Homo sapiens: one gene and its partners. The protein of the gene in region 5 interacts with the protein of the main gene of each other region in a biochemical or structural test. Each region holds a gene or a part of one and is shown on either strand. Other genes may lie near its edges. The genes, in order: DGKZ, LHCGR, ITGA6, SLC15A5, GIPC1, LPAR1 and DGKK.

The links.
Region 1: the proteins of GIPC1 (region 5) and DGKZ interact in a test that uses a peptide from one of them, tested with the Homo sapiens proteins (one large-scale study listed by IntAct).
Region 2: the proteins of GIPC1 (region 5) and LHCGR form a complex in vitro, tested with the Homo sapiens proteins (one study listed by BioGRID).
Region 3: the proteins of GIPC1 (region 5) and ITGA6 form a complex in vitro, tested with the Homo sapiens proteins (one study listed by BioGRID).
Region 4: the proteins of GIPC1 (region 5) and SLC15A5 interact in a test that uses a peptide from one of them, tested with the Homo sapiens proteins (one large-scale study listed by IntAct).
Region 6: the proteins of GIPC1 (region 5) and LPAR1 form a complex in vitro, tested with the Homo sapiens proteins (one study listed by BioGRID).
Region 7: the proteins of GIPC1 (region 5) and DGKK interact in a test that uses a peptide from one of them, tested with the Homo sapiens proteins (one large-scale study listed by IntAct).

The regions. Positions count from the first base shown.
Region 1 is NC_000011.10:46,364,463-46,367,962, forward strand, and holds part of DGKZ (diacylglycerol kinase zeta), read left to right. Parts: intron 1-1,781; exon of another isoform or gene 1,782-1,794; coding exon of another isoform or gene 1,795-2,522; intron 2,523-2,828; coding exon 2,829-2,937; intron 2,938-3,189; coding exon 3,190-3,285; intron 3,286-3,500. UniProt on the Homo sapiens protein: Diacylglycerol kinase that converts diacylglycerol/DAG into phosphatidic acid/phosphatidate/PA and regulates the respective levels of these two bioactive lipids.
Region 2 is NC_000002.12:48,752,925-48,756,871, forward strand, and holds the start of LHCGR (lutropin-choriogonadotropic hormone receptor precursor), read right to left. Parts: upstream 2,801-3,947; 5' UTR 2,748-2,800; coding exon 2,587-2,747; intron 1-2,586. UniProt on the Homo sapiens protein: Receptor for lutropin-choriogonadotropic hormone. The activity of this receptor is mediated by G proteins which activate adenylate cyclase.
Region 3 is NC_000002.12:172,500,586-172,503,772, reverse strand, and holds part of ITGA6 (integrin alpha-6 isoform b preproprotein), read right to left. Parts: intron 2,002-3,187; coding exon 1,894-2,001; 3' UTR 1,872-1,893; intron 466-1,871; exon of another isoform or gene 1-465. UniProt on the Homo sapiens protein: Integrin alpha-6/beta-1 (ITGA6:ITGB1) is a receptor for laminin on platelets. Integrin alpha-6/beta-1 (ITGA6:ITGB1) is present in oocytes and is involved in sperm-egg fusion.
Region 4 is NC_000012.12:16,187,985-16,190,685, forward strand, and holds the end of SLC15A5 (solute carrier family 15 member 5), read right to left. Parts: intron 1,832-2,701; coding exon 1,684-1,831; 3' UTR 501-1,683; downstream 1-500. UniProt on the Homo sapiens protein: Proton oligopeptide cotransporter.
Region 5 is NC_000019.10:14,486,128-14,489,627, forward strand, and holds part of GIPC1 (PDZ domain-containing protein GIPC1), read right to left. Parts: intron 1-3,500. UniProt on the Homo sapiens protein: May be involved in G protein-linked signaling.
Region 6 is NC_000009.12:111,028,471-111,031,970, forward strand, and holds part of LPAR1 (lysophosphatidic acid receptor 1), read right to left. Parts: intron 1-3,500.
Region 7 is NC_000023.11:50,367,368-50,369,825, forward strand, and holds part of DGKK (diacylglycerol kinase kappa), read right to left. Parts: intron 1,653-2,458; coding exon 1,573-1,652; 3' UTR 1-1,572. UniProt on the Homo sapiens protein: Diacylglycerol kinase that converts diacylglycerol/DAG into phosphatidic acid/phosphatidate/PA and regulates the respective levels of these two bioactive lipids.

The DNA of each region.
Region 1 (3,500 bases), on a different chromosome or scaffold from region 5:
CCAGGTGGTCTGCTTTGAGTGGGGCACTATTTGGGGTCATAAGAGCACTGCCCTGACCTCCCTGTCATCTGAGGCAGCTGGAAACTCCAATAGGCAGAGACCAAGAGCTGAGCTGTGCAGAACTCTGCTTCCCTAGGCACCTCCACCCTGTCCATCTCTCCCCCAACACCCCTGTACCTGGCCTGAAGCTGCTCAAGACCTGCAGGGCAGTAGCAAATCAGTGCAGTGTATGGAAGGAGAAGGTGCTAGACGTGCGGCCTGGGCCTGACTCCTCCAGCCCTTCATCTTTGCCTTCATCCTTCCTCCTGCCCAACATGCGTCCAGGGCATCACCCACCATGCCTAATTAATGCCAGCCTTCAGGGGACCACAGGGCTTCTTCTGTCAGCCCCAGGCAGCACTGTCCCAGGGCTGTGACCTTGACCTCTGTGGCTGCCAGCGGTTAGGATGCATCCCCCACCAGTCTCTCCCCAGGACCAGGGCCCAGGAGATCACCTGCTGTGGGGCACAGGTGGCCTCAGGTACCTGGAGGCATCGCCAGCCTGATCCATGCCAGGCAGGCTGCCCTTCCCCCACTGTTAGGAGAGGTAGGGCACAGGAGCTCGATGCTGGCTGTGAAGAAGGGTAGGCAGGGCTGAGGTGAGCTGGCAGAGGGAGCAAAGCATGAGTTCAGGATGGGTCCATGGAGGCCAGGTCCAGGTGGGAGCTAGGATGATGCCCACAGCTCCTGCCTGCCTGCAGGAGGGAGCTCTGGGCTGTGCAGCGTTTGGAATTGTGAGTATGGGGGCTTCCAGCATCAGGGCCGCAGAAGAATGTGCAGTCACAGGCTCCATCAGGAGCAGAGTCAGAAGGGTTTCCCGGCATCACCCAGCTTCACCCTGGGGTATCCGTACTTTGTCCCTTCAGAAAGGTGAGACAGAGCAGTCGAGCACCAGAAAGTTCTTACCATCAGCACTTCAGACATACAGGCACGCACACACCCAGAATCCAGAAGGCTTTGCTTTTGGCCCAAGCCTATTGTCACGGCCCCCTGGGTGTGAAGGGAGACTGAGCAGCCTCTCTCCCAGGAGAGCCAGACAGTGACTCTCCAGTTCCCTGAGACCTGGTCTCCCCTGAGCTACACATTAGACCCTCTCTATTTCCAGGAGTCACCTTCAGCCTGACCCCAAGGCTATGGGCTGAGAGACTCTGGGGGTCCTGTCAGGATTAAGTTCCTTTGCAGAGAGCCTCATTTTGTTATAGCTTGGTTTGCTCCATGTCCCATGAGGGGACACCTAACCTGCCCCCACCATGTTGGTGGCAAAACAAAGGCCCAGCAAGTGGGAAGCCCTGCCCTGGGCCCCACCGTCCATCCAGGCAGACCGACTCCCCATTTTCTTTTTGTTTTCTTTTCCATCAGCTTCCGGCAGGGCAGGTGGAGGCCTTTAGGCCCAGAGCTCTGTAGATTCTGGTGCCTGGATGGGGGAAGAAGGGGTAGCCTGAAGCACCCACCTCCCTGGGACTCCAGGGCTCCCTAGGGTGCAATGGGGGAGAGCATCAGTGCCCCAACAGCTGTAAACGTGGGCTCCCCTGAGCACCCCTGGGATCCTCACATGGAGGTCAGAGGCTGCAGTGACCCCTCCCTCCCTCAGGGGTTGCTTCCCTTCTCATGGGGCAGAGGCTGTGAATGGGCTCCTGGTTGCTTCCCTTCTCATGGGGCAGAGGCTGTGAATGGGCTCCCGGACACAGGACAGACCGTGGCCTGATCCAGCTCCTGATGCTCCCGGTCTCTGTGCCCAACAGCCAACCGCCTGCCATGGAGACTTTCTTTAGGAGACATTTCCGGGGGAAGGTGCCAGGCCCTGGAGAGGGGCAGCAGCGGCCCAGCAGCGTGGGGCTGCCCACAGGCAAGGCCCGGCGTCGCTCCCCCGCTGGGCAGGCCTCCTCCTCACTGGCACAGCGGCGCCGCTCCAGCGCCCAGCTCCAGGGCTGCCTCCTGAGTTGCGGGGTGAGGGCCCAGGGTTCCAGCCGCCGGCGCTCCAGCACTGTGCCCCCTTCCTGCAACCCCCGCTTCATCGTGGATAAGGTGCTCACTCCACAGCCTACCACCGTGGGGGCCCAGCTTCTGGGTGCACCCCTGCTGTTGACCGGGCTTGTGGGCATGAATGAGGAGGAGGGTGTCCAGGAGGATGTGGTAGCCGAGGCATCGAGCGCCATCCAGCCAGGCACCAAGACACCAGGGCCACCCCCACCTCGGGGCGCCCAGCCGCTGTTGCCCCTACCCCGCTACCTGCGCCGAGCCTCCTCCCACCTGCTCCCCGCGGATGCCGTATATGACCACGCTCTCTGGGGCCTGCACGGCTACTATCGGCGCCTCAGCCAGCGGCGGCCCTCAGGCCAGCACCCTGGCCCTGGGGGCCGAAGAGCCTCAGGCACCACCGCCGGCACCATGCTGCCCACCCGTGTGCGCCCACTGTCCCGCAGGCGCCAGGTAGCCCTACGGCGCAAGGCGGCCGGACCCCAGGCCTGGAGCGCCCTGCTCGCGTAGGTATAGCTGTGGCCAGCAGGGCGAGTGGTGTGACCTCCTGTGGGTCTGGCCTGGGCATGGGCCTTGAAGCTCTGCCTGGCTGAGGGTTCCCCACTTGGGAACACTCTGGGCAGTACCCTGAAGCCAGCGTACCCCAAAAGGCCATGTCTCTTGCAGGGAGCCTCTTAGTGTCTGGGGCTGCTGGGAGGCTCCTCCGCCCTCCCTGTTGCCGAGGTCACGGAAAGGGCAGAGGCCCCAGGAGGTGGGAGGAAGTAGGGTCAGCAAGTGCTCAGCCCCCTCCTCAGCTGTCTTCTCCTCTCTAGGAAAGCCATCACCAAGTCGGGCCTCCAGCACCTGGCCCCCCCTCCGCCCACCCCTGGGGCCCCGTGCAGCGAGTCAGAGCGGCAGATCCGGAGTACAGTGGACTGGAGCGTGAGTGCCTGAACACCCCTGGGTCCCAGACCCTCTGGGCTCTTGGCCAAGGCGCAGCTGGCGGGTGGAGGCACTAAAGGCAGCTGGGAGAGCCAAGCCTGGAAGGGTTGGGACAGTGGGGCAGACGGAACAGAGCAGGGTCGATCGGGGCGCTGGAGTGGGTTTGTCTTGGGAGAGGGCGGGTGGGCGGGGGCTGATGGGAGGGAGGGCTGGGCGGCCAGCGTGTGCTGAGCAAGCCCATCCCGTGGCTAGGAGTCAGCGACATATGGGGAGCACATCTGGTTCGAGACCAACGTGTCCGGGGACTTCTGCTACGTTGGGGAGCAGTACTGTGTAGCCAGGATGCTGGTGAGTGCTCGTAGGGGCACGCCGCCCCCTGCTGGTGGAGCCAGTAGCCGCAGCCCTTCCGGGAACGTGGGATTGAGCCCGCTCCCTGGCACCCCTGCTGTGGGCCGCCCCAGGATGGTGAGGGGTGCAGGGGCTTTGTCCGGATGCCAGGACTGGGGCTTCCCAGTGCACACAAAGGGCAGCTGTGCTGGGGCAGGCAGCCTCCGAGATAGACT
Region 2 (3,947 bases), on a different chromosome or scaffold from region 5:
TTAGGATTTTGATTTTATGCCTTTTTGCAATAAATAGGTGTTATGCCGGATTTTGGCGGGGGGGGGGGGGGGTGGGGAAGGGAAGTGTATGGCACAAGGACTTTTAAAATATACTTTTTCCTCTCTAAGATGATACCTCCCTGGAGAGCTGTGCCTTGGTTCTCAAACTTTAGTATGCATCAGAATCACCTGAGGAGCTTGTTAATCTGTAGCCTGCTGGACCCCACCCCTGGAGTTTCTGATTCAGTAGGTTGGGGCTGAGGCCTGAGAATATGCAGTCTAACATTTCCCAGGTGATGTTCATACTGCTGAGCTAAGACCATACTTTGAGAAATATTGCCTTGAAGTAACAACCCTCCCTTTGCTTAACATGCACCTCTCTTGTCATATGGATGTTGGTGTCACTATGTTGTGCCAAAAGTTACCCTGTTTTGGCCTGCATAGGCTCAACCTCCACAGAGTGACAAGGGCATCTCTTGAAAGATGAGGGCATCTCTCAACCATCTGGTGCTCAGGAAATGAAACCTTGTGAGGGTCACCACGCTTGGCTAAGGAGGCTAAATGACTGGCAGAGGATGTTCCTGGTGGTGGATGCTCAGGGTCTCTACCCCCAAACCTAGTCAGCCCTATCAGATATTTTTGAGGGGTTCTAGGATTCTTGAAACCCTGCTGAAAGGCAGCAGGAGAAAGTGGGATTTTTAAAAAAAATTTACTTCAGCCTTTTCCAGGGAAGGGGGTCCCCTCCTGAGAACAGCACGTGGCAGCAGGAGCCCTTGAGAGATCTTACTGAAAAGCTGAATTGAAAAGGAACTGGGACTTGGCCCACCCATTCATGCCCCCAGTGGGAGTTCTTTGCTCAGTACTAATTTTGGAGAAACTGAGTGTGTGTGTGTGTGTGTGTGTGTTTTATTAAGAAAGCAGTAGTTTTTCTTACAAAGATGAGCAAATTTAAAAAGATAATTAATAGATAAAATCCTGAATTGCTATTCAATAGCTGTGAGACCTTGAGCAAGTTATTCCTTCTCCTTGGATCTCAGTTTCTTCTAATCTGTATGATAAGTAGCAGGCAAGTGAGAAAGTCTGTTAGTAGTACAGTCATTCTTAAGAGCAACATGGCATGCTTGTCAGGGACGGACCAGGGCTGGAACTTGGAAGGCCTGTTGCATGGATTTGTGGATTGATTGAAACAAATTCTATCAGCATGGTCCATTCCTTCAGGGAATGGACCTGACAAGATAATTAATGGAAACTAATTAATATAAACCCCTCAACCCTTTAACTGTATCTCTCAACCACAATTATTCCCAGAAGGCCTTTAACTTTTCCACATGAAGAAGCCTGGCCTGGCAGGGAGGGTGAGTCTCCTCTATGAAACAGCCCGTGACAGACTGTTGGGGGCTCAAAGGAAATGGCAGAGGGGGTGGTCTCCTTCCTTCCCCAGCACAGAATTCCATCATCTCTAATTGTTAGGACATGATCAAGACCTCTACCAGCCTTTTAGATACTCTTGTCTTTTGTCTTTTTTTCCCTTTCTTTTCTTTCCTTTTCTCTTTTCACAGCTGTATTGAGATGTAAATCCTACACTATAGAATTTAAAGTGGACAATGCAATTGTTTTTAATATGTTCACACGCAACTGTCTCTACAATCTAATTTTACAAAAATTTCACCACCCCCCCGCCCCAAGCCCATACCCACTGATTAGTAGTCACCTACTGTCCCTCCCATCCGCTTCCCCAGCCCTGGTAACTACTAATCTACTTTCAGTTTATCTGGACATTTCATGTAAATAGTATTATAAAATATGTGGTACTTTTTTTTCTAAATAGGAGAAAGGAGACCTGATGACACCCTGATAGTCTAGTACTAAAGGCTCCCCTTCTCCTCTTTACCCCATTACTCCAGAAACAACGCCCTCCCCCAGGTTGCTGATGTATACAATCCCTCAATCAGGCCTGTGAGTGTGGAGGTGGTGCGCGGGTGCCAGCGGCAGGGCACAGGGCCTTTGGTCCATTAGACCATGAGACTGAAGTTCAAGCACATCTGGGCACGGTGGAGCAGCGGCTTGTGTGCTCACTAAGATGCCCGTGTGACTGCCAGCAGTCAGTTGACAGATTAGGTCACCCTTGGCCATAGGGCCTGAGCACTCCATTCCTAGAGGACCACAGGGTGCCAGAGCTCACATTCACCTTCCCTGACGTGGCTGGCCCAAGGCTCAAAGGCCTGTAAGACTTCTCTGGCAGAGACCCCTGCCAGAGGAGTTGAGGAGCGTCACACCCATATTCCCTTCAAGCAGCGGCAGAGAGCAGGCCTTCCCCTGAGGTTCCTGAATAGTTCTACTCCCCCGGCCACAGCCCCAACCAGGGGTAAAGAATGGGGCTGGGGCTCTCAGAGGCATGGGGTGGTAAAAACAACCACCAAGTTTTGGGTTCTCATCACCCTAAAACGTGGGGGAAATTTGATAGGGCAAAGCGTTTTTCTCCAAGCTTCCAGGGAAAGGGGGCCAAAGGAGTAGGGAGGGAAGGTGGCATAGAGCGATGGAGGGTCCTGCATCAAGGGCGCCGCGACGGGAGCGCTGTGTACTCACAGTCGAGTGAGACCGGCCGTGGGGCCGGGGCAGCGCAGGGCGCCGTCGGGCACGCAGTTGCAGGGCTCAGGGCAGAGCGCCTCGCGCAGCGCTCGTGGCAGCGGCGGCTGCAGCAGCAGCAGCAGCTTCAGCAGCTGCAGCGCCGAGAACCGCTGCTTCATGGCCGGCGAACTGGGCTTCTGCGGCTTGCCAGTGTCTTGGACGGCCTCTGAGTGCGGCCCGCACCCCTCTCCCCGCCCCTTGGCTGCCCTTCCACACACCCTTCCCTGCCGGCCCGCCCCTGCCCTCCCCCTCTTACCGCGCACCCCGCTGAGTCTGCTCTGCCTTGACCTGCGACAGTGCCCAGTGACCCAATAACCTCCTTCCTGCTACTTTCCCCTGTCTTGTCCCCTACCATCTGCAAATGGCCCTAGCTATAGGAGGTAAAGAGATTTAATGGCAAATGTTTTGGATTAGAGGTGGGGAGTTCTGAATTGAGTGAGTTGTGACGCTTCCCGGAACCCCTTTTATTTCATTTGTGAAAGGGTCCGATGGATACTCGCTATACCCACATCAGAAGGCGTAAGAGTGCCTGGCTCAGACATTTTTCCTCTCTTTTATCCTCAACCCCTAATCCTTTCCCCTTCTCTTTCACCAAATCCCTCCACTCTACAAGTAATCTTTGCCCATCCTCCCAACTACCCCAGTAATTTCTCTTGGTGGTAAATGCTTTCTTATTTATGGTATAGCTATTTGGCTTGGTCCTGTATCTCTTCTATAGATTGGGAGGTCCTTGAGAGCAAAATCCAATTCAGATTTATTTTTGTATTCCTTCTGGCTTCTACATGGTAAGTCCTCAGTAAAGATTTGTTGAATGAATGAATGAAACTGCCTAATACTGGTAGCAGCTGCCCCATAGAAGGCCCAGGATAGGCTAGACCTTGTAACAGGTGCTCTGCCTCACATCATGTTTAAGCTCCACATTGAACTAGCAGGGTGTTTGCGATGAGAAAAATGTCCCAAGAGGTATGTGGCTTCCCTGAAGTCACACGGTTTTAAAGTAGTGAAACCTGGAACTCATGTCTATCACCTACCACCTCTCACCAATGCAAAAAGCTGCTATGATCTACATACCAAAGAACTTAGGAGACAAAATTTTACGGTAATCATGGGGATCCATAATATCCCCTCTTTGATTTGATCATTTCTTCCTTCCAAGGATTCTGTTTGGATTCTGGAAATCCTAGCAGTTTTGCTGGAAGAGGTGGACTTTGAAAGCTGGGAAGGCATTTAAGGCTTTGAAGAGAGGAAATATAAGAATAGATTTCTTTCACTCTGAAGCCAGTTCTCAAGGATGGGCTCCTTCATTCACCATTCTACAG
Region 3 (3,187 bases), on a different chromosome or scaffold from region 5:
ACAATATGATATGTAAAATATCTGATTATCAGATTAGATTAAGAATAATTTTTAAATGGCATAAACCAAAGATTATTTCATGCCCCTTTCCCACTAATAAAATGCAAATCATGTCACAAGTATTTTACAAATTACTATTTGAATATGCCAGTGTTCCAACAGGTCAACTTTATAATCTTTTTCTCTCCTCTGAGGCTCTAGTACACATATCACTTCTCTCATTAGCCAGGAGGTCATTTATGTTGCCTGGATTTGCTATTGTGCTTCTAATTAAGCTATTTCATTAATCACATAGTAACTGTTTCCTGCAATAAAAATCATGTGCTGCATAGGACTTCAGAAGTGCATCACTACACTGAATTTCAGAGCACTCCCTAATTTCTCTTCTTTTGCAAAAATACATTTACCTTTAAACTGTTAATGTGTGTGTTTATATATATATATAAAATTCATTTAAATAGTCAATCTGATCCAAAGTATATTTTTACTGAGAATATATCTGAAAAAATTTGAATTGAGATTAAATTTTTAAATGAAATATATTTACTTTTTTTAAAAAAAGGTGTTTTCAACTTTAAAATGCAGTTTAGAAGAATGAGGATATTGATAGAACTGTTAATGTGTTTATTGTGTGACGTCAATAGTAACAGGACATTTATGTTGAATGATGTTATGTTATAAAAATGCCATGGAGCAAGATAAAATTATATGTATAGTTATCACTAAATCAATAGGCAAAATGGACCAAGATGTTTTGTTCCAGGTCATTTCTACATGGATTCATTTATTATTCTGTGCAAAAAAAAAGAAAAAAAAGCCAAAGTACCTATCTATTACAAAATATGACTGCTGTCTACCCCATTTAAACAAAGAGGGAAATTAAGGGTAATATGTAAAGCTGAATGGCAATGTTGTGATTCACTGTGATAGTGCCATGGAAAGGATTACAGGAGTAATTCTGTCCTCTCATGCCCACGTAAATGGTGAAAGGGATCACTAGCAATTCCTATTTCCATGTATTTCCAAATAAGAGAAACTTGAATTTAAAATCAACTGAGATCCAAGGTTGGATAAAATCTCTGGATACATGAAATATGGTCAAACTCCATCACAACATATTGCAATAAAAACTGTTCAGGGTATTTTTTGTACTAGAATTTTGTAGATGGAAGGTAACTTTGGTAAGGGATCATCTTCTGAAGTTGGCCATAAAAGCCCATCATGCTGATAATCAGTTTGTTGTAATGGTCTTTGACCTGTAGGAGACATGCAGGAAATGGAAGTTGCATGCTTAGCTAGCATAAAACGATTCCTGAGCAACAGTAAAAAGCATTCCAAGCCTTCCCCATCACTTTATAGCAAAGAGAACAAAAAGATGACAGTGAGGAAGCCTCACCAAGAGAAACACAACATTTCCAACATGCAACAGGTTAATTAGGCGGTCGACACAGCTTCTATCTGTGGAAAATTCCAAAATGGACAAGAAATCTAGAATGATTTCTTATGCATCTTTGAATTCCCTAGTGGAATGCTACATACCGAATTAATAACACATTGCAAACTGGGCTACTATGGAGGGCTAAAAGTCTCTTTTTGTGTGTACAAATATTGCAAATTTTCTTCATTGCTGTGGTAGATATTTAACAAGAACATAAAATAACTCACCTGCAACGAAAGACTGTGCATTAAAAAAAACAAAAACTGAGCTTTCAAGTGAAATAAAATAAAACAAATCCAAGCAAGGCAAGCCAGTGTGGACATTTGGAAACATCTGTTAATGGGACACACATAGCAAGCTGTTGTTCTTAAAGTTAGCCACCACAACCATAGCGGGTCCCACAGCTAGCAATTAAAAAACATTGATCAATTACCAATTACAGAAGTAGATCAATACTATGCATCAGAAGTAAGCCTCTCTTTATCAGATGGCTGAGCATGGATCTCAGCCTTGTGATATGTGGCATCATAATGATCTTTCTTATTTCTCTTGAAGAAACCACACTACAAGGAAGCAAGGTATTTAGTCAATTTTACAGTTTTGTGTATAAGAGCCAAACAACAGAACATCTCAAATTTTAATCTGCCTTCTACTAGTGGCTTGTTTACAAACAGACCACTTTCAGTCAACCAACAATGAACAGCCACTGCATTGTTTCATTGTCATATTCAATACACCCTTCACCATACATCTCTGGTCAAATATTTATATGGATGACACTAGTCAGCTCATTGATTTTTCTCTTTGTAACAGAAATCTTGTGGACAAAAATCATTCTAATAGGGAAAACGTATATACATTGCTGATTGTAGCTTTGGGTAGTTTCTTCCTGCAGGAGAATATGAACTCCAAAAGAGGCAAAAGATTGACTTCGGCAGTTTATTGAGACAAAGGTTAGAAAATAAATTCTCTAAATAAAAGCACAAATCCAAATAAAATATAGATATACTATGGGTATTTTTCTGCCTTTTACAGTAAATTTTATGGAACAAATGCCATTTACTTGAGGCCTTTGGATCTGTGGGGTGAATCACAATACAAATTCGAATACACCATCATGAAAGAATGATTGCTGTCATTTTCCCAAACTCTGAGCACCATAAAACCCTTAAATGGTAGGGACCCAATGCTCCTCAGGTTAGGTCACTCTAAATGAGTATAAAAGTATAATTCCACTTTCTACTATAATTTCCTTCGTTCAGTGATAGAGAACTTTTCCTATTTACTTTTATCTAGTTCATAAGGCCATGGAACTGTCTTTTATAAAATTTAACCTGGTCAAATAAAATCTCCTGAAAAACTCTGATTCCTAGTCCAGCAACTCATGAAGGTAAAAGCCTAGATTCACTTTGTACAATATATGGGAGCTGCTGGCTCCGTGAGGCTATTCAGATTGAAATTAATTTAAATTACATTTAAAACTCTGTGCCTCAAGTGAACCAGCCATATTCCACGTGCCTAACCGCCACACATGACTAATGGCTACCATACTGGATGCTGCAGCTCCAGAACATTTCCATCAGTATAGAGTTTTGTTGGGCAGCTTTCAATAATATGTGCTAGTAAATAGGGTGGGAAGAAGAATAAACCAGGAGCCAAGAGGCCTGGTCCTGCCTCCAACTTGGCAACATTCTTTCCTTTTTTTGAGACAGAGTCTCACTCTGTTGCCCAGGCTGGAGTGCAGTGGCA
Region 4 (2,701 bases), on a different chromosome or scaffold from region 5:
TCTTTTGGTGTTTGCTTTGGGTCAACTTTATAATTCTGTAGATCTTTCAGCTCTAAGGACAAGTGAAACCACAATGAGCACCTTTTTCTATTATGATGTAGAAATTAAGGAGATGAAGGCAAATTTGTGGGGAGGGGGAGAACAAAATAAAGCAGGCTCCTTTTCTATCAGTAAGAGGGACTAGAGCTTCTCACTTGTACTGAGGTGAAGTGTTTAAAGATTTCTTGCTCTTGTGAGTGTTCATTAAACCCAAATTGCAAACTTGGCATTTAACCTTTTGCAGCAAGGAAAGCTTCTAAGGAATATTAGGGGTCTGCCTCACTGTTTTGCCAGGAAACAATTGCTAAACAGAAAGGATTTGAAAAAGTTGCAGGAAACGAATTTATGCCTGTACCAGCAAGTCTTTTCATTTGTCCTCAAACAAAAAATAGTTTGAGTAACAGAAACACCTGGTGCTTTACAGCTCCTCTTTTGCAATTAAAAATGCGTAGCATACCTAATCAAGTTGAGTAAATCTTTTATTCTACAGACCTAAAATATTTTATGTATACACAAGGGAGGTGCATAATTGCAGAATAATTTGCAGTCAGCTGATAAACTCACCTGTCCTATCCAACATGAATTGTCCTGGAAAGCAATGGCTTTTAAACCTTAGGGAACATGAGAATGATTTGGGTGTGCTTATTAAAACCACCAATTGCTGGACCCCAATCTCAAAAAAAGATTTGAGTTAAGGCAGTCTGTATAGGGGCCAGAAAGATTCACCTGTAGCAAGTTGTCCTCAACCAAATGTTGACAAATACTGCTACTGAGAAACAGACTTTAATTTTATTTGATTTTTTAAAAAATGAGTTTCCACATATTTTTGCTTATGAAAGAAGAAACTCTTAGAAGATAATTTTCTGAATGCATCTGAATTGGCAGTGGAGACCGAAAGATGTTATTCATATAATTCCTTTAAGCATCTCTATTTGGTTTGGTCACTTACCCTCCTCTCAGCCCCCTCATTTTATCTTCCCTAATTTCCTTCTTTCTTTTAATTCCAATAATTCCATAACTTACATTTATTTTTCAACTTTTTTAGTATGCGGACATTCTCTTTGTTAAGGACATCTATTTTAGTAATACTGCTTTTAAATTCAGAGAAAATGTCCTTAATGAAGTCATATTTTGATAGCATAATATTAACAGCAAATATAGAAAATCATGTATATGTTTATTATTTACTCAGTTATATACAGTATATGGTCACAATGTAATAAGGTCACGTGTAATAAGGGATCACTAAGTGTATTGAAAGAGAGTATATTAAAATACTGTCATTTTGCTTCTAATGACTCATTAAAACTCCAAAAAAAAGGTCATACGCTTTCAATGGCTGAACCATTGTAGAAAGCTGTAAGGTATTATTGGTGTATAGAAAACTGTCATTTTTTTTGTCATAGAGTAATCACTGAGACTTTGAAATTATTTTATTAATTCTAATGCTATAACATGTTAATGCAAAAGCATGACAGTTTACTAGAAAATTCATAATTAGTCTTTGTAAATAAAGTATACAGATGATATTTGTAAAATCACCTCTGTATATATTGGCTTTTACACTAAAACACATAAAATGCTCAACTGAAGAAGAAAACAATGAATACTGTTCTCATAAGACAGGTAGACTCAAACACAGTTTCATAGGGCTGTCTCCCAAAGATCAATACTTGAAGAAAATTCCTGTATACTGCCATAAAATTTCAGAGATTTTTCGTGGAGGAGAAGTGTTTCTTCAAGATTACTTCCACGGATGTTCTGGGCATTAAAATGATTTAGATTACAATATCTAAAAAAGAAAGAAAGAAAGCTTTTCTTAGGACCAGATGTAGATGAATTGATAAATCATTTGCTTCCCTCCTGCGCTTGTCTACCTTTTATGATGGGCTCATAGATACTGGCACAACAGTGACGATTATTTAAGAGCACTGCTCACCAAAACAGCCTTTTTAAAAGGACAAAAGGAGTTTTTGTGACTTAGTAAAGTGTCTCATAAGGACCTTTAGGTGGCGCTTTTTAACAACCTGCTACGCTGTCTTCAGTGCTGACAGAGAGATGGTGAGAAGGCTGAAAGCCTATTGACTTGACAGATTTCATGGCGGTCAGGATGCATAAGAGGTTTACTGGGAATTTGTAAATTCAGTGCTGAGATTATGTGGAAAGCACCATTGTCAAAGAAGGAGTCTATGAATATATTTCTAGAATGTGCACTCTCCATCCCCAACCTCCAGAAAAACCTGCCTTTCCAGTGTCTTCTAAGTACCAGCCCCATGCAAGGGTGGGATAGAATCATCCCATTTCACAGATTAAGAAACTGAAGTTTCCAAGAGATTAAATAACTTGCTTAAGGTTCATAGAAATAGTAGTTGGCAGAGTTTGGATTTGGAACCAGAACTTGATTATTCTGAATCCTGGCGCTTTTCCTCCATGGCATACTGCCTCTAAAGACAAATTACTTTCTTAAACACTTTCGGGTAAGTTCCAGCAAAATAGGAACTTCAAATTGCTTTATTCACTGCTTTATTCCCAGTGATTGATACATAGTAGATGTTCAATAAATATTTGTCAAATGAACAAATGAATATCGGCTATAAGTTTAATTTTATCACATACACATAAGTTTCAAAAATAGATGGGGTCAGTCATCTATTTTTGATTT
Region 5 (3,500 bases):
TTTGGCCTCCCAAAGCTCTGGCATGACAGGTATGGGCCACCGTGCCCGGCCTGTGACCTTCCTTAACCCTCACACCACACTGTAACACAGGGATCACGTTATGCTACAATTATGCCCATTGAACAGATGAGAAAATGGAGGCTGAAAGCGACTACGCTTCTATTTTCCTCTCAGCCACAGTCACTAACACTGTGTGCAAAAAATTTCTGACTCTCCCCCTTTGGACCAAACAGGTGGATGGCACTTCCTGGCCTCCTTGTGACTGGGCAGATAAATGATTATTTCTGGCAAATAGGTTGTGAGAGGAAGTGGCACATGACATTTCTGGGCTGAGGCATTTAAGTGCTGGAGCCTCCAGAGATCTATCTTTCCCAGGCAGGGTGATGAGCCACATTTGATATGGTGGCGACTCTATGAGGCCGGGCCCTGAATGACTACGGTGAATGGTGCCCCCTGCTGAGCCGCAATGGAAGTGTAGCAGGAAGAAAAAGCAAATCTTTGCTGAATTCAGCCACTAAGACTTTTGGGGTTGTTTTCTACACCACATACATTTTTTTTCTGTTTCTTTCTTGCTTTCTTTCTTTCTTTTTTTTTTTTTTTTTGAGACAGAGTCTTGCTCTGTCACCCAAGCAGCAGTGCAGTGGTGCGATCTCAGCTCACTGCAACCTCCGCCTCCTGGGTTCAAGCGATTCACCTGCCTCAACCTCCCAAGTAGCTGTGACTACAGAAGACTCCTGACCTCAAGTGATCCACCCGCCTCAGCCTCTTGAAGTGCTGGGATTACAGGCATGAGCCACCGCGCCCGGCCCGCTTCTTTATTTCTCTCTTTCTCCATTCTCCCCTCCCTTCAAACAATTTTTTTTTTCTTTTTAGTACTTACTGTATTCTGTGCACCATTTTAGATACTGTCTTCAATAAAAAAAGCAAGATCCCTGACTAGGGCCACCATGTTCAGTTACACAAGTTGTGTACTGTGCAAAATTACTAGACCAAGGTGGCAAGTAGGACTGAAATTCGGTCTGTGCACTGCCTGCCAAGCTATATTTCTTGGTGTGGTGTCTGCCAGGAGGAAGAGATGCCTTTCTTTTTTTCTTTTTTTTCTTTCTTTCTTTTTTTTTTTTTGAGACAGAGTCTGTTCTGTGTTGCCCAGGCTGGAGTGCAGTGGTGCAATCTTGGCTCACTGCAAGCTCCGCCTCCCAGGTTCCAGCAATTCTCCTGCCTCAGCCTCCCAGGTAGCTGGGACTACAGGTGCACGCCACCATGCCCGGCTAATTTTTTTTGTGTTTTTAGTAGAGACGGAGTTTCACTACGTTGGCCAGGCTGGTCTCGAACTCCTGACCTCGTGATTCGCTCGCCTCAGCCTCCCAAAGTGCTGGGATTACAGGCATGAGTCACTGCACCCGGCCGAAGAGATGTCTTTCTAATTCACTCACAGATGCTATATAGGCTAGCTGGGGCTCTGCACATGACCTCCAGAAGTGGACAGTCCGGAAGAGGAAATGCACAGGGAGCAGGGAAATGTGTAAATGTCTAATATAAATTTTTTCCTTTATTTTCCTTTTTTTTTTTGACAGAGTCTTGCTGTGTTGCCAAGGCTGAGGTGCAGTGGTGCAATCAGAGCTCACTGCACCCTTGCCCTCCTGGGCTCAAGTGATCCTCCCGCCCCAGCCTCTTGAGTAGCTGGGACCACAGGTGCTTGCCACCATGCCCTGCTAATTTTTTTATTTTTATTTTTTAGAGACAGGGTCTTGCTATGTTGTCCCGGCTGGTCTCAAACTCCTGGGCTCAAGTAATCCTCCTGCCATGGACTCCTAACGAGCTGGGATTATAGGCATGAGCCACTGTGCCCAGCCTCATATAATTTTTAATAGTGATATGGAGACAAAGCAAGACAAGTTCTATAGACAAGATCAGTGAGGGCGTCTCTGAGCACGTGAAGCTGAACTTGAGACCTGAACCACAGGAGGAAGCATTCATGCAATGATTTGGGGCAAGAACGTCCCAAGTAGAGAGAACAGCCAGTAGAAAGGCCCTGAGCTGGGGCTGGGCATGGTGGCTCAAGCCTGTAATCCCAGCACTTTGGGAGGTTGAGGTTGACGGATCACATGAGGTCAGCAGTTTGAGACCAGCCTGGCCTACATGGCAAAACCCCATCTCTACTAAAAATACAATACACAGGTGGGCGTGGTGGTGCACACCTGTGATCCCAGCTACTCGGGAAGCTGAGGTGGGAGAATCACTTGAATGCAGGAGGCGGAGGTTGCAGTGAGCCGAGATCACACCACTGCACTCCAGCCTGGGTGACAAACCGAGACTCCATCTCAAAAAAACAAAGAAAAGCCCTAGCCAGGCGCGGTGGCTCATGCCTGTAATCCCAGCACTTTGGAAGGCCAAGGCAGGCGGATCATGAGGTCAGGAGTTTGAGGCCAGCCTGACCAACATGGTGAAACCCCGTCTCTACTAAAAATACAAAAATTAGCCAGGTATGGTGGTGCATGCAAACCTCATCTCTACTAAAAACACAAAAATTAGCTGGGCGTAGTGGTGCATGCTTGTAATCCCAGCTACTCCTGAGGCTGAGGTTGCAGTGAGCTGAGATCACGCCATTGCACTCCAGCCTGGGCGACAGAGCGAGACTCGGTCTAAACAAAAAAAAAAAAAAGAAAGAAAAGCCAAGCCCTGAACTGGGCATGCAATTGGCATGTTTGAGGAACAGTGAGGAGGCCTGGGGGGTTGGAACAGTGAGTGAAGGGGGGATAGTGAGAACATGAGGGCAGGGAGGTAACAGGTTGCTATGTTTTCCTGATTTTTTTTTTTTAATGGGGTCTCACTCTGTCGTCCAGGCTGCAGTGGAGTGATGTGATCACAGCTCACTACAGCCTCAAATTCCTGGGCTCAAGCAATCCTCCTGTCTCAACCTCCTGAATAGCTGAGACTACAGGTGTTCACAGCCATGCCCAGCTAATTTTTATTTTTTGTAGAGACGGGTCTCACTACGTTGCCCAGATTGGTCCTGAACTCCTGGGCTCAAGCAATCCTCCCGCCTTGGCCTTCCAAAGTGCTGGGATTATAGGCATGAGCTACCACACCCAGCCTGCTATGGTTTGGATAAGGTTTGCCCCATTGAAACTCATGCTCGAACAATCGATTGGCTAACGAGGTCGATGACGCCAGGCACAAGATGCTGGGCCTACCGCGGTAGCGTGAGGGAAGCCGTGCGTTCTGTTCCAAGGCATCTGTGAGCCCATGGAGTATACACCATGAGCAAAGCTCACCCTCCTGAGTTGAAAAAATTTACGGACAAGAAGTTTTCATTGAAATTAAATGGTGGCAGACATGTCCAAGGAATATTGCGGGGATTTGATCCCTTTATGAACCTTGTGATAGATGAATGTGTGGAGATGGCGACTAGTGGACAACAGAAAAATATTGGAATGGTGGAAATACGAGGAAATAGTATCATCATGTTAGAAGCCTTGGAATGAGTATAAATAATGGCT
Region 6 (3,500 bases), on a different chromosome or scaffold from region 5:
AAATTGAAATGAGTATAATTTAAAAGAATCATAATGGCTTAGAAAAAAGAAAACTAAGAATAAACTTGTCTTTTTTCTATCTTGCATGCAAAAAGGCATGCCAATAAAATTATCTAAGGTGAAAATAAATTCTTAATTAGAAAAAGACTTTTTTTTTTTTTTACCAAGTAAAGGACAAACTTGTACTGCATCCTACTTTTTAGTAGGCAACTAAAGCTTAAAATTATTTGATCAGACTTTTAAAACCTCTATGACAAACCTTTACGAGTTTCTCAAAGCGTGGTCTTTAGGCTACTGAAATTTCCAAAGTTCTTCTGGAAGGTTTACCTTTTATATGACAGCAATATGAGACTCACTGCCACTAGTCCTACAGTAAATTAAAACTATATCTGCAACTTCCCCCAGACGTCAAATCACCATCTAATTATTGTAAGGATTTTTTTCCAGATAACAATAGCTGGAATGGGGTGTTTCAGGGATTTTTTGTTCACCCCAGTGGGTATTGTTGAAATTTGCACCATTTCCTTCCTATCTCCCCAGGACCACCTATCAAGAGAAGCCATAGTAAACGCTCAACAAATGCTTGATAACCGATAAAACTACTTTAATCTGCTAAAGAAAAATAACCTAAAGAATTGAAATAAGCCTTGTCCTTGTTAAAATATATCAATCTTTTCACTCTAAAAGTGCTCTCCAGCTTATCACACACATTTTACTGGCATTTACTTCTACATTTAGCAATTATGCCTGAATACTGCCAACTGACTTCTCAGCTAAACTTCAAACTCAAATTGCCAGCCACCAGCTGAAAATCTCTGCCTGCATGGTTTTAGACATGTCTAAAACTAACAAGCCTCACTGCAACAATCATCATGCTCTCGTGTCCTGTCTGGTAATGGCATCAACATGCCCTTTTTTGTCCACAGTAGTCTCCAGTACCCTTCTACCTCCACAAGCTTCGAGATTGGTCCCACCACTTCCTGCCACAAACCGTCAATTTCAGGCACTCCTCCCCAAGCCTGTCACTCACTGGGTCTTCCTCATTACTCTTCTGCATGGAATGAGCTCCACAGACCATTGAGGCTGGCATCCTGCTGCAAGTCATTTCCCTCCTCTAAGGCTGACTTACCCTCTCCATCCTCAGATATGCAGACAGCTCTTTGTTTGAAACTTGGTTTACCGTATTCATCACTACCTACCTGATCTTAATCATTTGAGTCCATATCGCTCCATGTTCATGAGCTACTCAAGAGCGGGGACCGTACTTTCTTAATTTTTTTTTAATTTTAGTGTCCTCAGGCCAGGCACGGTGGCTTGGGCCTGTAAACCCAGCACTTTGAGAGGCCGAGGCGGGTGGTTCACTTGAGGCCAGGAGTTCAAGACCAGCCTGGCCAACACAGTGAAACCCCATCTCTACCAAAAAATACAAAAAAAATTAGCCAGGCATGGTGGTGCACGCCTGTGGTCCCAGCTACTTGGAAGGCTGAGGCAAGAGAATTGCTTGAACCCAGGAGGCAGTGAGCCAAGATCGTGCCATTGCACTCCAGCCTGGGCAATAAAGTGAGGCTCTGCCTCAAAAAAAAAAAAAAAAAAAAAAAAATTTAGTGTCCTCAGCCAAACGTAAGGACACAGAAGTTCTCCAAGATATCAGCTGCATGAAACTAAACTGACAGCGTCTCAAAGTGACCAGAGAACAGATTGTGCTAAATCTGGAAAAGTCAGTCATCTTGCCCTAGCCTTTGAACCTTTACTTTTCTGTGCCTAGTCAGAAAGTAAAGCAAGCAGTTCTCTGTGGAACTACAATAAATAGTGGGTACAGAATGAATGCCTCACTTAGTTGACAATAATCCTTCTCCCCACAATCGTAGTCCAAGAAGGCAAAGCATCCCCTTAACAAAAGGCAATTCTGTTTCAGTTGTGTTATTCTCTTAGTAAGAACACACCATCCTTATCATCTGCTGATTACAGACTTCCAAGGCGGGGGTCCTCACTGAATACTCCTACAATGAAACCTGCCTATAATGAGTAACTCTACCTATCTTCTCTGCTCCAGAAGTGGTTGAAAGGCCTTTCATTCAGGCCTTGTTTTCTACCTAACAAAAGGTTCACAGATGCCAAACACGTGCTCCAAAATGCCCCTCCTCCCGTCGTCTGAGACCCAGATGAAGCAGGGTCCTTGTGGCAATAATATTCTCTGCAATGCTTTTTGTCGTCTTGGTTGTCACACAGCTGGAAATAGTTTTCTTATTCCCGTTTACAATAGCCAGACATTCATTATCACTCTGACAAGAACTCTTGAGTGATGTCATGCTGCACATGCTGCACCAGTTCAAGAAGGGCCCATGCAGGCTCTTCCAGCTTCAAACTTCTCACTCTTGATGGCAGCCTCAAGTATAGCCTCTCTAAAGCAAAAGAAAATGGAGGCAGGCACAGACAGATACACACACAAACATACATATGAGTATGTATAAACATATCCACACTTATCCCACACACACATAAATATACATAAATATTAATTTTTGTAGGTTTGTATAAGTAAAAGGACAACTATGGAAGGCTATGGAACAAACTGATATCAGATGGGTAAGGTTAAAGTGGCAGAGAGAGATTTTTACATTTACTTTAGACACATCTATAGTGTTTGAATCATTGCAAAAAAAAATTTTGTAAATGAATGCAGCTACCCTCTCCTGGTTGGGATGCATTTTATTGTGTTTGTATCCCTGAGTGACTTCAAGATCATAAGTGAAATACATTAGTGAAGCAAAGCACCATGACAGGGTGACTTCAAAATAAGTATTAGCCAGATGCGGTGGCTCACAGCTGTCATCCCAACACTTTGGGAGGCCAAGGTGAGAGGATCCCTTGAGCCCAGGAGTTTGAGAACAGCCTGGGTAATGTAGTGAGAGCCCATTTCTTTAAAAAAAAAAAAAGAAAAAAAAAAAGAAAAGAAAAAGAAAGAAGAAGAAAGAAAGAAAAAGAAAAAAAATAGCCAGGCATAGCGGCACACACCTGCGGTCCCAGCTACTTGGAAGGCTGTAGTGGGAGAATAGCTTGAGCCCAGGAGGTCAAAGCTGCCGTGAGCCAGGATTATGCCACTGCACTCCAAGACCCTATCTCAAATAAATAAAAAATAAGTCTGACTTTCTACAGGCACTAGGTTTGAATTATTCTAGAAAGCAAACTATATACTGAGCAAAGAATCTCAAACACAAGTTGGGTTAAAAGTAAGAATAGGGAAAATGAGATGGAAGCAAGGCAGGGCTACAGATAAAACACAGCTATGTCTATCTCTAGACTTTAAAACAGATAAATCCTAGCAAAATATTTCAAGCATATAAAATGAAAAGGAGATTACCGGGCTCTGTGGTCTCCTTCCTTAAAAGGGAAAGGCCAACTCACCTCAAAGTATTGAGACTACCTTGGAGAAAATGTTCCTAAAATGGAAGAATAACAAGATACATATGCCTGAGTTTGAAGGCATTCTAAAAGAACTT
Region 7 (2,458 bases), on a different chromosome or scaffold from region 5:
TTGAAAAATGTGAATTAGTATTTGGAGCGATTTAGGAATAGTTTGTTTTCATGAGAAATTTGCAAGAAGAACCACAGGAAAGCACAGGCTTCTAGCCTTCATTTCTCCAGGCCCATGTTTTTTCTGATCACTTCAATGCCCCTCTGTACTCAAGGGAAAAGGGCAAGATGGGAGATTTGAAGGTGACTTGAGGACTGACCCAACAGCCTGTCCAGAAGATCAGGCCAAGATGGAGCTTGTGGGGAAGGGCCTAGGCTGTGACTTAATTGTCAGGCAGTCCCTAGTTCAGGCATCTAAGTCACAGAGCTCAAGGCCTGGTTGCTCCATATAGTCTTTTTATTGGGGAAGGGCACAGTTGCTGATGAAGAGTCTAGGACAGATAGAGCAAAAAAAGGCAGCATGCCAGCTTAAACCCCTTCTTTAGGGCATTGGTGTTTTTGTTCCCCTTTCCATGGCCTGGCTCAGAATTTTAAGGGGGCGTCAGAATCAGCTGGGCCATAGATCCCAGCCACCTCTAAGACGCTGAAAATGCACCAAAAGATTTAGAAGCTCCACCAAGAAATAGGGCAGTTGGTAGAGGTGTATGTGTTATTGTTATGTAGAGTAAGGGGGAGTGGGAAGGGATTCCTGGATTAGCACAATAAATTATAGGGTCACTTAGAGGTCGAGTTGTATTTTCAGCTCTTAAAAATATATATGCGTATGTATATATATATACATCTTTATGTCTCTATACATAATCTATACTGCAGCACAGCGGCAAAACATTTAGTTAAAAAATCCAGCAAGAATGCAGGCAAACACTCCGTGGAGGCATGCAGGCTAGGATCAAGGCAGCAGGAGGGGAGCCTGTATGGTTGCCATGAGGGGTGAGTTCCAACCAATGAGCCCACCAGAGCACCACCTGGACATATGCAGACATACAAGCACACATAGAAAAACGCAAAGGGTTTGCAGAGAGAGAGAGAGGTTACCATATCTACAAAAAGAGATTTCACATGGTCATCTTAACAGGAAAGTGGACAAGCCCCCAGGATCTAGTTCTCATTTTAATGAGCCAACTAGAAGAGATCTCCTGAAGGTGCAAGTTGCAGTTGGCAGGGATTCGGAGAGACACACAACCAAGTCTGGCTGTCCTGCCTGCCCCCTTCTCTTCATCTCCCTGGGAGTCTGTGTGTCTTTCATTCATTCCTTAGCATTGATAGTTTCTCTGCTGGTCAGAGAAAACCATTCCAAAACTCCCTGAAGAGGTGAACTCCCTTGAATCCTTTATAGATCCCAGGCCATTCATAAAGAGCTTATCCCAATAAATACTGTAGTTGCTCAAGATGCACAAAGAGAAGGAGAACTGAACAAGACAACTCGGAACAAGAACCTTTGGCCAATGAGGAAATGTAAACCTCTAAGGAGACCAGATTAAGTCCAGGAAAATGCATTAGTGAAAAGAATTGGAGGGTCTTTCTTGGTGGTGCTCATGTTTGTTCTGAAATGATTTAGTCTAGCCTGTATTGAGGTTTTGAGAGTTTTTTTAGTAGAATTCTCAATGTTGTGAGTTCTTCCAGCTTTCAAGGGCTACAGTTGAGATCTCGATGGTGTTAGAGGATCATCACCCTCTGCTTCATCTTCACGATGTCTGCGGTGCCATAAATTGCCTTCAGAGGAAAAAAAATGGTATAGAAATAATGAGGTTAGCACAATGCCAGATGCCCAAGTATGTGGACCCAAAAGAGAGCAAAAAGTCTGTTAGAAGATAGACTGGTTTGTTCCTATTGTACTAACCATCTCTGAATCATCAGGGAAAACCAGCTGAAACCAAGTGAGCTAAAGACAAATGGGATGAATTTTCAGAACCTGATAATTTATGGAACTGATATTGACTCTGTCAGAGTCTTTAGAAATATTTGCAAACACTATTGTCTCCCAATTGACAGACTCTTAAGGAATCAAACCAGTTCGACCATACCTGAGAAAATACAGCTCGATCCAAGAGATTCTCTCTTGGCATTCGTGCAAACTCTTAGTTCCTTGAAAACAAACTGCTACCCTCTGTCCCTTTCTTTTTTTCTTTTTTTTCTTTCTTTCCTTCTTTCTTTCATTTCGCTCCCTTTCTTTCTCCTTCCGTCCTTTCTTTATTCTTCCTCTTTTTTTCTCCCTCCTTCCTTCCTTCCTTCCCCCTCCCTGCCTCCCTCCTTCCCTCCTTCCTCTTTCTTTCAAGATGAGGTCTCACTCTATTGCCCAAGCTGAAGAGCAGTGGCATGATGACAGCTCTCTGCAGCCTCAGCCTCCCAGGCTCAAGCAATCCTCCCACCTCAGCCTCCCAAGTAGCTAGGACTACAAACGCACACCATCATGCCCTATTAATTTTTTATTTTTTGTAGAGACAGCAGGGTCCCACCACGTTGCCCAGGCTGGTCTTGAACTCCTGGGCTCAAACAGTCTGCCTGCCTCGGCCTTCCAA